4 linked regions of the Homo sapiens genome follow. The protein of the gene in region 1 interacts with the protein of each later gene in a pairwise test. Each region holds a gene or a part of one and is shown in the gene's direction. Other genes may lie near its edges.

Region 1 (3,458 bases):
TGAATGTCTTTTTTTTTTTTTTTTTTTTTTTTGCATTTAGCCCATTTTCTTCAAGTCTGTGTTGAATTTAAAAAAGTACATCTAAGGCTATATTGTAAAGAAGAAGGCAATTTATAGATTGAAAGAGTTTCCATTTAAATTAGATACAGTGTTTGCATCCATAGGAATGAGAAAGTTCAGAGAACTAACCTTGACGTGAACTACACTTGCATTTATTGATTTATTGATTTAGGGACAGAGTCTCGCTCTGTTACCCAAGCTGGAGTGCAGTGGCTTGATCTCAGCTCACTGCAACCTCTGCCTCCCAGGCTCAAGCGATTCTCCTGCCTCAGTATACTTGCATTTATTACAGTTCACCTTATAGATCTTGTGATGACACAAGTTAACCACTTGTGGGTATTTGGATCTCAGTGTTGCAAAGGCAGAATACAGTGTTTGAAAGACAGGTAATGATGAGAAGAGGGAAAAAATGTATGTGAAAGGAAAGGGCAAGAGATGAAGAAAAGCAGTGTAACAAGGATAAGTGATTCTGTCTCCTCTACTTTTGGAATCAATTAAATTTTTCTATATTCCTCTATTTGGATATTCAGGGTTTGTAACTCATTTCTTTCTGAGTTGAGGGGTGACATAGGTGGGCATTATCTCATTTTATTATGATTAATTTTTAGGCTTATGTGCACAAGAGTGTAATGGAAGAACTGAAGAGAATTATTGATGACAGTGAAATTACAAAAGAAGATGATGCTTTGTGGCCTCCCCCTGATAGGGTTGGCCGACAGGTTTGTATTTAGTGATTCTTTAAGTGTATAAATATTAAAAATTGATAATACTATTTTGTTTCCCGTTATTTATTTGGAATGAGTCTAAGTTGATTCTTTGGCTTTCTATTTAATAGGCACCTGGTAAATTCTCTTTAATTTTATCTCTTAGTTCTGTTTTTCTGTGCTACCTCCTAGTAGTGAAGGAGTCAGTGCATAGCTCTAAATTTAGACATCTTTCTCTGTAGTCACCCCAGCCAACGTTAGGATGTTTTCACAATGCAGTGTTATGAATAATTTCTGTTGTGTGTTAATCACTTTTATTAAGAATATGACTATGTAAAATTTATTTTTGCCAAATCATAACTTCTAAAATTCTTACTTGCATCCCTATACCCCAGAGAGAAACTTGATTGGTGGTTTCTTTGTTAAAACTGATGATTGCATTTCCCTCTCATATTCCTTCAGAATAAATGATGTTTCTCAGGCTTCTGAAGAACTCTGAAGGCCTAATTTCACTCTGTAAAAAGAAAGTTTGGTTTCTGAATTGGGTCTTTTCAACTCTTGGAGAAATTCCTTCAACAACCCCTGGAAGGAAGAAACATTTAATTTCACTTTTGTATATCCCTGAGGATTGTACTTTGTATCACCTTCTTTGAATAGAAGAAAATGTGGAGAAATCTAACACATGCTGACACTCTGTAGGAGTAACTTAAGTCTTCTGCTTAAAGAAGCATTATTTAGAAAAGCAAAGGTAATAGTTAACAGTATTTATTTTAAGCATCGTATCACTTTTAAAAAGTAAATTTAGGCCTCAGTTTGTTTTATGCAGATACACATATGTACTAAAAAGCAAACCACAGCAGCTAACCTTTTATATCATTTAGACTCAGGGAGAGCCTAGTATTTTATCTATTCACTTAAGGATGTGTTCATGGGTTTTGGTTAGTGGGGAGGAGTAGGCATGCTTCAGAAATTGCCTTTTGTATCAAGTCAAAGGTTTTATGGCTGTTAGAGCATCTTAGCTAATTCTCCATTCTGTGTGTGTCATAAACTGCATAATTAGGCCTCTGATTAAATAAATAGCTAGGATTGTCTTCAATAGTGTCTGTTAACTTGAAGATTCATTACAGATATAGCTTTTTAATTATTGGTTTTAGGCCTGCAGATAAACAATATAGGGAAAAATCTATACAGTAATTACAGCACACTAGGAACATCTACATTAGGTTGGTTTTTTTTTTTTTTTTTTACTAGTTCTTAATTTTAGTTATTTTGTGGAGTATTAGTTTTGAAGTCTTACCATCTTGGGATCAAATATAAGTACCATCATTATTAGTGGTTATAAATATCAACAAGTATTTTCTTCTGCTCTATGAGTTTTGGATTACACATTTGTAAAATAGGTTAGTAAGGTTATTTTCAAGATTACAGAGAGTACAAAGTCCCTACCACTAGGGCCTGACATACAGTAGGTGCTAAAGTGGTGGTGGTTATTAATATTACACATTTTATTTGTAGAATCTTCCAGAAAGAAAAAATGTGTATTTATCATATTAAAAATGGTCTTATACTCCAATCATTTTTACAACATGTGCTTCAAAGTGATGTCTTTAGTTTTTACTGACATTGTAAGAAATATTTCTTTGTCATTTTGTTTCATAGTGTCTTCTTTATGTCTCTGGAAAGCAATTCTTTGTTGGTCCTAAACTTGGGGGTAGTGCGCGTGAGCAGTCTTTATTTTAAGGATATAGTTTATATCTAAGAAACCATGTTTCTTTCCCCCTCGCCCCCCACTCCCTCTGTTGGCTGCTAGAAAACTTGCAACTAAAATTGGGATCTGCTTGTAGCAAGAATACAGATACCTCTGGGATAGATTTTTATATTAACTACATTTTTCTGCTATATTTTTTAGGAGCTTGAAATTGTAATTGGAGATGAGCACATATCTTTTACCACATCAAAAATAGGTTCTCTTATTGATGTAAATCAGTCAAAGTAAGTATGTTAAAGCATTTTGGCGAAGTTTTCATTATTACAGAGGCTCATTTTAGAACTATAGTCAGTTTGCTAGCCAAGATAATTTCAGTGGCATCCTATCAGTTTATTATGCAGATGTAATCCTGATTTTTATGTCATTAAAGGCTTATTATCTTGTCTCTCAGTAGAAGTTAGCAGAGTATTTCATTGATTGTCCAAAAACTTTTAATCCAACAGCTGTATATAATAATGCCCAAGTTGTATTAGCTACTTTGTATAAAAATGTGGATACAGTATCAGCAAATCCAAAGGAAAGAAATCCTTATTGGATTATGTCAGCCTCATTAGGCCTATATCATCTCACTGTCCTTCTTGGGCTCAATACTTGGGAAAAAGATGGAAAAAATCCATTATGGCCTAAGTATGCTTTAGCTATCGATGTCTTCCCAAGATCTGTCTCTCCTCTGCCCCAGGGTTTTGTAGCACATCCCATTTTCTTGGTCTGATCCTAGCCACTTATTTTTATTTGTGCCCATTCCCCTCAAAGTGTCCCCATAGTGCTCTTACTTTTTTCTGTCACCCTGAATTGTAATAACCTATTTGTCTGCTTTACTGGTTTGAATGTAAGCTCCTTGAGAACCTTGCTGTATCCACAGAGTTAGCATAGTGCCCTGCACATAATAGATGCTTTCAATAAATATTTGTTAGTGGAAAGGAGAA
Region 2 (2,597 bases), on another chromosome or scaffold:
CCAACGCATTCATTTCTTCCTGGCTCTGTGAGTAGTTTGCTTCTTCCCATCTGTCAATATCCAACACCCTGGGACAGTGGACGAAGTGGGATTCCAACCTTCCATCTATTTTTTTACCCTACTTCTCCTCTTTACTCTGTATATAAAAACGATAAGATTATACTATGGTGTTCTTAGTCTGTTCTTTCTAAAAACAAACACAAATGCAGTTGACAAATAGTAGAATCAAACAAAAGGAAACATAAACCCGTCCTAAGGGGAAAGGAAAGCCGTGGACACGACCCTGCTCCCCAAGCAAGCAGCCATTTCTGGTTCTCTCGTCTCTCTCCTTCCCATATCAACACCAAATGCAATTTTCCATCCTCCTTCTCCAGGTTCCCATGACAGAGGCAGAAATTCAGGTCGTCCTCGCATAACACAGATCCATCATCAAATACTCCCTGCTGGGCATTCCTGCGAGTCCTGCCCCAAGCCAGGGGGCTTCCTAGTGCTGCCTGAATAGCTTTCCAAAGCACAGCTCCCACCCCCCCTTCACTGCCCACCTGAACAACCTCCTTAGCTGATTTGTCTCTAAACGGAGGCCCGGGTCCACAGGGCTAATTCAACCCTCTCTGCAGTCCTTCTACCACCAAACCTGCCCACCATCTTCATCTTTCCTTGTTTGCTTTCGCCACTCCTTCCAAATGCCCTCCACTCCATTTTGATTTTGTGTTTTCTGTCTGGGTGTCCTGCACACATGTGGATCTGAAGGGAATGACCCATTCCTTAAAGTCAGTTCAACCCCACAGCCTTTGCAATGCCTCCCCTGATCTTCCAGCTTCTGCACGCCCACAGCACTTTAGTGACATCCTAGGATAATGTGACATTTTGGATTCGTTTATCTGCCCTCCTTTTCCCCAAACCCATCAGAGTAGACCCCTGTTGAAGGCAGGGTCTTGTCAAAATATCAAAGTTTTTTGTTTTTATCTTTACCGGACAGAGACTTGCTCTGTCCCTCAGGCTGGAGTGCAGTAGCCAGATCATAGCTCACCGCAGCCTCCATCTCCTAGGCTCTAGTGAAGCTCCCACCTCAGCCTCCTGAGTAGCTGGGACTACAGGTGCATGCCACCACATCTAGCCAGTTTTTATGATTTTTAGTAGAGATGACGTTTTGCTATGTCACCCAGGCTGTTCTGGAACTCCTGGGTTCTCACCTCAGCCTCTCAGAGTGCTGGTATTATAGACATGAGCCACCCAATCAGCCAAAATATCAAAGTATTCCTGAAACACTCAGCACAATTCTTTTCATTTTGCAAGTGCTCATGTTATATTGACTCTATGGAATAATTCATATGGCATTTGCCTATAAGATAAATCTTTCCTTCTTTCCTTCATTCATTCATGTATTCATTTATTCAACAAAACCTTATGAAGTTCATCATATGTGCCAGGGAATAGGAAGGATGGGAAGGGAGAGTTCACAGCAATGCTTGTTGAATTAATGCACCAAGATAAACAAAGCCCTCTAGTGGCCTTTTGGTAGGTGAGAGATGATTTACAGAAACACACCAGTCAGTTCCTGTCCTTGGGGGCACTTATGATGCACGGGGGAAGACAGGTGTGTGCATACATGACAAGGAAGGGGGGTGTGGGAGGAACAGGGATGGGGACTAGGATGAGGTGACGTCATCTGTCTTGTATAAGGATGGCAGGACACATCCTTAGCATAAGACTTGGGTTGTTTTTAAATTCAGAGGGGGTCTTGCCATATTACCCAGACTGGTCCCTAACTCCTGGCCTCCAGTGATCCTCCTGCCTGGACTCCCAAAGTGCTGGGATTCCAAGCAAGAGCCACCACTCCCAGCTACCACTTGGATCATCTCCTTCCTGAAGGTTTGAGAGGCACCCTTAGCAGGTCTCTGTCCAGCGGGGCCTCCTGAGGAAGGCAGGGCTCTCTGCAGGGCGGCTGTTGGTGCTGAGCTGAGGAAGGTCCCCTGCCCTCCTCTCTGAGAGGCTGCCCTCAGGCAGGGGTCCCTCCTGGTGGGGCCCCTGAGCAGCAACCTGATCTCTCTCCCCAGCTACCTGGCCAGTGACATGGAGGAGGACAACCAGGCCCCGAAACAAGACATCTTCTCCTTCCTCTACGGGAAGAACTACTCCCAGCGACCCTTGTTCCATAAGCTTCGATACCAGCTCCTCTGTTCCATGCGCTGGAGGACGTGGGTTTCCCCAGAGGAGATGGAGGAGGTAGGTGGGGCCATATGAGGAGGTGGGGGTGGGGAGGGATGGGGTGGACTGGAGGCTGGAGGAGGGCAGAGAGGGGGCTTCCTGGGGAATCCCTGGCTTCTCAAGTGGTGTGTGTTTTTCCAGATCCAGGCTTATGACCCAGAGCACTGGGTGTGGGCCCGAGATCGCACCCTCATTTCCTAGAGCTCCGGGGACATGGAGGCCTGAGGTCATCGGCCTGAGGGAAGGTACGTGTGTATCCTCCAGGGTAAAGGCAGAATATTCTCATCTATAAGAAAATCCAAGGAACTCAACTGCTTGATCCAGCTTCAAGCCTGGTCAACATGGCGACACCCCGTCTCCACAAAAATACAAAAATTAGCCGGGCGTCC
Region 3 (3,500 bases), on another chromosome or scaffold:
GGTGGCTCACACTTGTAATCCCAGCACTCCAGCACTTTTGGAGGCCGAGGTGGGCGGATCACTTGAGGCCAAGAGTTCGAGACCAGCCTGGCCAACATGGTGAAACCCTGTCTCTCCTAAAAATACAAAACAATTAGCCAGGTATGGTGGTGGCACATGCTTGTAATCCCAGCTTCTCAGGAGGCTGAGGCACAAGACACAAGAATCAAAAATGAGAACCAAATGGAGAATGAGAATCCCTTGAACCTGGGAGGCAGAGGTTGCAATGAGTACTCCAGCCTGGGCAACAGAGCCAGACTGTGTCTCCAAAAAAAAAAGAAAAAGAGACTTAGTCTGTCCTCCAAGCTGGAGTGCAGTGGTGGCTCACTGCATCCTCGACCTCCTAGGCCCAAGCGTTCCACCTCATCCTCCTGAGTAGCTGGAACCATAAGCATGGGCCACTGTACCCGGCTAACTTTTTTTTTTTTTTTTTAAGAGATGGGGTCTCCCTATGTTGCCCAGGCTGGTCTTGAACTCCTGGGTCCCAGTAATCCTCCCACGTCAGCCTCCCAGAGTGCTGGGATTACAGGCATGAGCCACTGTGCCTGGCCCTGTTACGTACTTGTTGAAAGAGTGAGGAACAAATGTATGTTGTAATAGATAGGATTTTTTGGTTTCCAGTTACAGAAACTCGTTCAGTCTTATGATTAAAGTTGAGTTTATTAAAGTTTATTAAAGAGAGAGAAATGAGAGAAGAGTTAAACAGTTGAGCCACCTGGGGCTAGGGATTTCAACAGCCAGAGCACATGGACTGAATTCTTTGAATGAATTCTAGTGAATAACTAAGCTCCAACTGCCTTCTGTCCTTTCATGTCTTACTCAAGATCCAGATTTCTGGAAGAAGAGACCTGGTTGCTTTAGCTTTTGTCAGGGGTGGGGAATGGGGTATTGTGATTGGCAGCCCCACCAGTATCACATGAAATGTGGGAGGGTCAGTTTCCCAAATAAAGATGGCAGCTAAGGAGAGAAATGATGCTGAGTAGAGAAAGCCAACAGTTGTTTATTAGAAATATGTAGCATTTGCCCCTGCCACCCTCAGTGCCCCATAGACCCAGATCCTTCCTCATAAAAAAGAAAAATATGTAGCATTTATAGAGGACCAGGTACCATGCTACATTACTTATATGGATTATGATATTTGATTATAACATTTAATTCTCACAACTTTGGAAGGTAGGCACTGTTATACCCACTACAGAGGAAGAAACAGGTTTTCAGAGGTGGAATAATTTTTCAACATTACAAAGCTAAGATGTGGCAGAGCTGAGTATGTTGCATATCTTCTCTTTATCTTGTCCCTTTGAATGATTTTCTGATCCATGTGCCACTTTTGTTTGTTCCTAGGGAGTCATCAAGCTTTGGTGTATGTGTTGGCCGGTTCTGAAGTCTTGAAGAAGCTCTGCTGAGGAAGACCAAAGCAGCACTCGTTGCCAATTAGGGAATGGACCGTTTGGGTTCCTTTAGCAGTAAGTACAGTGGGAACAAGTCTCAGGTGACTTATTATTATTTTTTTTTTGAGATGGACTCTCCCTCTGTTGCCCAGGCTGGGGTACAGTGGCATGATGTTGGCTCACTGCAACTTCTGCCTCCCGGCTTTAAACGGTTCTCCTGCCTCAGCCGCCTGAGTAGCTAGGACTACAGGCGCGCACCACCACACACAGCTAATTTTTTTTATTTTTATTTTTAGTAGAGATAGGGTTTTACCATGTTGGCCAGACTGGTCTTGAACTCCCGACCTCAGGTGATCCACCCACCTCGGCCTCCCAAAGTGCTGGGATTACAGGTGTGAGCCACCACTCCCGGCCTTCAGGTGACTATTAATAGCAAACTAGAGTGGAAGTTGATCAAGGAAGAAAAATAAACGATGAAGTTAGGCAATAAAGCCCTTTGACTCTGATTCTAAGGGAATTATGAGTATCAAAATAAAATCAATTAATACATATTGATTACCCATTGAACACATGACACAAACATATGACCCTGGGTCTTACAAGAAAATGAAGCAGCCGGGCGTGGTGGCTCACGCCTGTAATCCCAGCACTTTGGGAGGCCGAGGCAGGCAGATCACGAGATCAGGAGATGGAGACCATCCTGGCTAACACAGTGAAATCCCGTCTCCAGTAAAAAATAAAAAAAATTAGCCAGGCATGGTGGCAGGCGCCTGTAGTCCCAGCTACTTGGGAGGCTGAGGCAGGAGAATGGCATGAACCCGGGAGGCGGAGCTTGCAGTGAGCTGAGATTGTGCCACTGCACTCCAGCTTGGGCGACAGAGTGAGACTCTGTCTCAAAAAAAGAAAAAAAAAAAAAAAAGAAAATGAGGCTGAGATGGACCAGGCATATTCTGATTAACCTGTAGTTAAACCTAGAAAAGCCATGGGATTTCTGTTTAGACCAATAACATGTTTCAGGCACCTTGATAAGAAATGTGTCAGTGGTAAGATAAAGGAAAGATCATCCCACCTCCCCCTTGATGTGGAACTTGTTTCTAAGAGTAAACCACGGTAGAATAATTTAGAGAATTATGGGGTATGTATGAAGTAAATTCAAGTAGCCATAACTATGGATAAAAAAATTATACTGGCCAGGTGCCATGGCTCACGCCTGTAATCCCAGCACTTTGGGAGGTCGAGGTGGGTGGATCATGAGGTCAGGAGTTTGAGACCAGCCTGGCCAACAAGGCAAAACCCCGTCTCTACTAAAAATACAAAAATTAGCTGGGGGTAATGGCGAGTAACTATAATCCCAGCTACACGGGAGCTGAGGCAGGAGAATCGCTTGAACCTGGGAGGCAGAGGCTACAGTAAACCAAGATCATGCCACTGCACTCCAGCCTGGGTGACAAGAGCAAGAATCTGTCTCAAAAAAAAAAAAATTATACTGCTCTTTTTCCCTGATTCTGAATATATGAGATTTGGCAGAAATAGAAATTCCATTGTTAGATGTTTAGTAGTATCCTAATGAGAAGAATCAGAAAAGTACTTTTTGGGTGTTGTTTCCTCTTCAACAATTCGTGTTTTTTTTGAGATGGAGTCTTGCTGCATTACCCAGGCTGGAGTGCAGTGGCATGATCTCGGCTTACTGCAACCTCCACCTCCCGGGTTCAAGCAATTCTCCGTCTCAGCCTCCCGAGTAGCTGGGAGTATAGGCGTCTGCCACCACGCCCGGCTAATTTTTGTATTTTTAGTAGATACAGGGTTTTACCTTGTTGGTCAGGCTGGTCTTGAACTCCTGACCTCAGGTGATCCACCAGCCTTGGCCTCCCAAAGTGCTGGGATTACAAGCGTGAGCCACCGCTCCCGGCCTGACAGAACAATTTCTTAAAGGAGCTCTAATTTACTTTTTGATCACACTCCTAATATAAATTTAGGAGAGAATGGAGTCTTCAGACACATCTAGTTCAACTCTTTCATTTTACATGTAGAGAAATCTAAGTGGACTGCTCTAATGCTGGGAGTGTCCAA
Region 4 (3,500 bases), on another chromosome or scaffold:
GTTAAAATATTTTTATAGTGAACACCTGGATATCCAGCGCCTAAATTCTGCCACTAACATTATACCATCCTTCCTTATCATGCATATATCTATCACTGCATCACTCCATCCAGCCATCCGTCTATTATTTATTTATTTATTTTGGAGATGGAGTCTCACTCTGTCGCCCAGGCTGGAATGCAGTGGTGCGATCTTGGCTCACTGCAACCTCCACCTCCTGGATTAAAGTGATTCTCTGGCTCAGCCTCCTGAGTAGCTGGGATTACAGGTGCCCACCACCACGCCTGGCTAATTTTTGTATTTTTAGTAGAGACAGGGTTTCAGCATGTTGGCCAGACTGGTCTCGAACTCCTGACCTCAAGTGATCTGCCTGCCTTGGCCTACCAAAGTGCTGGGATTACAGGCATGAGCCACCGCACCCAGCCATCTATCCTATTTTTGATGTATTTCAAAATCAGTGAAGACATCAATGCATTTTCCTGTAAATAGTTCAGCATGAATATTATTAACCTAGAGTTCAATATTTGTTTTTTTCTTTTCAGGTAAATTTTACATATAATGAAATTTCAAGTCTTAATTGAGTTTTAAGCAATGTACACATCTGCCTCACATTTATTATTATTATTATTATTTTGAGATGGAGTCTCACTCTGTCGCCCAGGCTAGAGTGCAGTGGCGTGATCCTGGCTCACTGCAACCTCCGCCTTCCAGGCTCAAGTGATTCTCCAGCCTCAGCCTCCTGAGTAGCTGGGATTCCACGCCCGGCTAATTTTTGTGTTTTTAGTAGAGATGGGGTTTCACCATGTTGGCCAGGCTGGTCTTAAACTCCTGACTTCAAGTGATCCACCCGCCTTGGCTTCCCAAAGTGCTGGGATTACAGGAGTGAGCCACCACGCCCGGCCATATTATTTTTTAAGAATGTGTAGGTGATTGCATTTAGTCAGTGTAACACGTTGCATTTTACTAATCTTTATATCACAGATATAAGTAATGAGGCTAAAATAATACCACCAATAAAGATGAGTGACTTGACTACAGAAAGATTTCTTATTGGGTATATTTCTTTGGTCTACATTATTAGTTATCTGTCATAGACCTCAGCAAGTACAAATGAATATATCATTGTATTTTATGGGATGGGTGAAAAAGATAACAAGTAATTAGGTTTTGTGATAACGTATCAAAGTTTCATTTTGCTGTTATCTTGTCAGTTTGTTTTTACCATGGGTTTTCAAGATGCTCATGCCTCAACCCCCTGAGTAGCTGGGACTATAGGCATGTGCCACCATGCCCAGCTAATTTTTGTATTTTTAGTAACGATGGGGTTTTGCCATGTTGGCCAGGCCGGTCTTGAACTCCTGACCTCAGGTGACCCACCCACCTCGGCCTCCTAAATTGCTGGGATTACAGGCATGAGCCACCGTGCCTGGCCTGTTATTTTCTGTTGGTTGATCAAATTGTCAGCTTCACAATTTCTTTCGTTTGTTTGTTTGTTTTTAAGACAAGGTCTGGCTCTATTGCCCAGGCTAGAGTGCAGTGCCATGATCAGAGTGCAGTGCCATGATCTGAGATCAGTGCAGCCTGTGCCTCCTGGGCCCAAGCCATCCTCCCATCGCAGCCTCCCAAGTAGCTGGGACTACAGGCACACACCACCATGCCTGGCTAATTTTTGTATTTTCTGTGGAGATGGGGGTTTGCCATGTTGCCCGGGCTGGTTTTGAACTCGTGAACTCAAGTGATTCACCTGCTTCGGCCTTCCAAGGTGCTAGGGTTACAGGCCTGAGCCACCACACCCAACCTCAGTACTTGTTTTCTTAAAAAAAAATATGCTCCTGGCTCTGTTGGAGGGCCCAAAGACCACTCCCAGATTTCGTGATCTGCTAGGAGGACTCACAGGATTCCCATATGGTTGTACTCACAGCAAGATTTGTTAGAATGATACAAAGTAATATCAGCAAAGGGAAAAGGTACCTGGGACAAAGTCTGCAGGAAACCAGGGACAGGCTTCCCAGAGTCCTCTCCCAGTGGAGTCTTATAGGATATGCTTAATTGTTCCAGTAATGAGTTGTAACAACCAGAAAAGCTCATTAGAGACTCAGTGCCCAAGGTTTTTATTGGGGGCTAATCACATGCATACCCTCTGTCTAGCACTTACCCAAATTCCAGACTCATAGAAGGAAAGCACGTGTTCTGCATATACCACACTGTTTGACAAACACAATCATGCGCTGCTGAACAATGGGGATATCTTCTGAGAAATGCATCATTAGTTGATTTTGTCATTGTGCAGACATCACAGCGTGAACTCACACAAACTAGATGATGTAGCTTTCTATGTACCTAGGCTATATAGTATAGCCTATTGCTTCTAGGCTACAAACTTGTACAGCATATTATTGTCCTGAATACTGTAGGCCATTGTAACACAATGGTAATTGTGTTTGTAAACACATGTAAAGATAGGAAAGGTACAGCAAAAATCTGGTGTAAAAGATACAAAATGAGCTGGGCACAGTGGCTCATGCCTATAATCCCAGCACTTTGAGGCCAAGGCGGGTGGATCATGAGGTCAGGAGATAGAGACCATTCTGGCTGACACGGTGAAACCCTGTCTCTACTAAAAATCCAAAAAATTAGCCAGCCATGGTGGTGGGCGCCTGTAGTCCCAGCTACTCGGGAGGCCAAGGCAGGAGAATTGCTTGAACCCAGGATGCGGAGGTTGCAGTGAGCCGAGATTACACCACTGCACTCCAGCCTGGGCAACAGAGCGAGACTCCATCTCAAAAAAAAAAATACAAAATGGTACATCTCTATAGGGCACTTGCCATGAATGGAGCTTGCAGGACTGGAAGTTGTTCTCACTGAGTCAGTGAGTGAATGTGAAGGCCTAGGACATTACTAGGCTGTAGACTTTATAAACACTGTATACTTAGGCCACACTAAATTTATAGAAACATTTTTTCTTTTTTTTTTTTGAGCCTCCTGGGTTCAAGTGATTCTCCTGCCTCAGCCTCCTGAGTAGCTGGGACTGCAGGCACGTGCCACCACGCCCGGCTAATTTTTTTTTTTTTTTTTTTAGAAGAGATGGGGTTTCACCATGTTAACCAGGATGGTCTCGATCTGCTGACCTCATGATCCACCTACCTTGGCCTCCCGAAGTGCTGGGATTATAGGCATGAGCCACCGCGCCTGGCCAAGAAATTTTTTCTTTAACCATAAATTAACCTTAGCTTACTGTATTACTTTATAATACAGTAATATACTTATAATACTACTTTATAATATAGTAATATACTTTTATTATTTTATAACTTTCTGACTTTTGTAATAACACTTAGTGTAAAACATATTGTACATATATACAAAAATATTTTTTCTTTATACCCTTTTTCTATAACTTTTTCCTATTTTTAAATTTTTTTACTTATTTTTTTGAAATGAAGTCTTGCCCTGTCGCCCAGGCTGGATTGCAGTGGCGCAGTCTCCGCTCACTGCAACTT

What was found. Proteins that work in one complex are often made in the same cells at the same time.
Region 2: the proteins of MAGOHB (region 1) and SPDYE4 interact in binary tests that used the Homo sapiens proteins (3 or more experiments, as listed by UniProt).
Region 3: the proteins of MAGOHB (region 1) and TADA2A interact in binary tests that used the Homo sapiens proteins (3 or more experiments, as listed by UniProt).
Region 4: the proteins of MAGOHB (region 1) and ZNF398 interact in binary tests that used the Homo sapiens proteins (3 or more experiments, as listed by UniProt).

What each region holds. Positions count from the first base shown.
Region 1 is NC_000012.12:10,607,152-10,610,609, reverse strand, and holds part of MAGOHB (protein mago nashi homolog 2), read left to right. Parts: intron 1-668; coding exon 669-779; intron 780-1,226; exon of another isoform or gene 1,227-1,512; intron 1,513-2,673; coding exon 2,674-2,756; intron 2,757-3,458. UniProt on the Homo sapiens protein: Required for pre-mRNA splicing as component of the spliceosome. Plays a redundant role with MAGOH in the exon junction complex and in the nonsense-mediated decay (NMD) pathway.
Region 2 is NC_000017.11:8,752,950-8,755,546, reverse strand, and holds part of SPDYE4 (speedy protein E4), read left to right. Parts: coding exon 1-27; intron 28-2,057; coding exon 2,058-2,226; intron 2,227-2,349; coding exon 2,350-2,409; 3' UTR 2,410-2,453; intron 2,454-2,597.
Region 3 is NC_000017.11:37,409,886-37,413,385, forward strand, and holds part of TADA2A (transcriptional adapter 2-alpha), read left to right. Parts: intron 1-1,383; 5' UTR 1,384-1,480; coding exon 1,481-1,505; intron 1,506-3,500. UniProt on the Homo sapiens protein: Component of the ATAC complex, a complex with histone acetyltransferase activity on histones H3 and H4. Required for the function of some acidic activation domains, which activate transcription from a distant site. Binds double-stranded DNA.
Region 4 is NC_000007.14:149,167,953-149,171,452, forward strand, and holds part of ZNF398 (zinc finger protein 398), read left to right. Parts: intron 1-3,500. UniProt on the Homo sapiens protein: Functions as a transcriptional activator.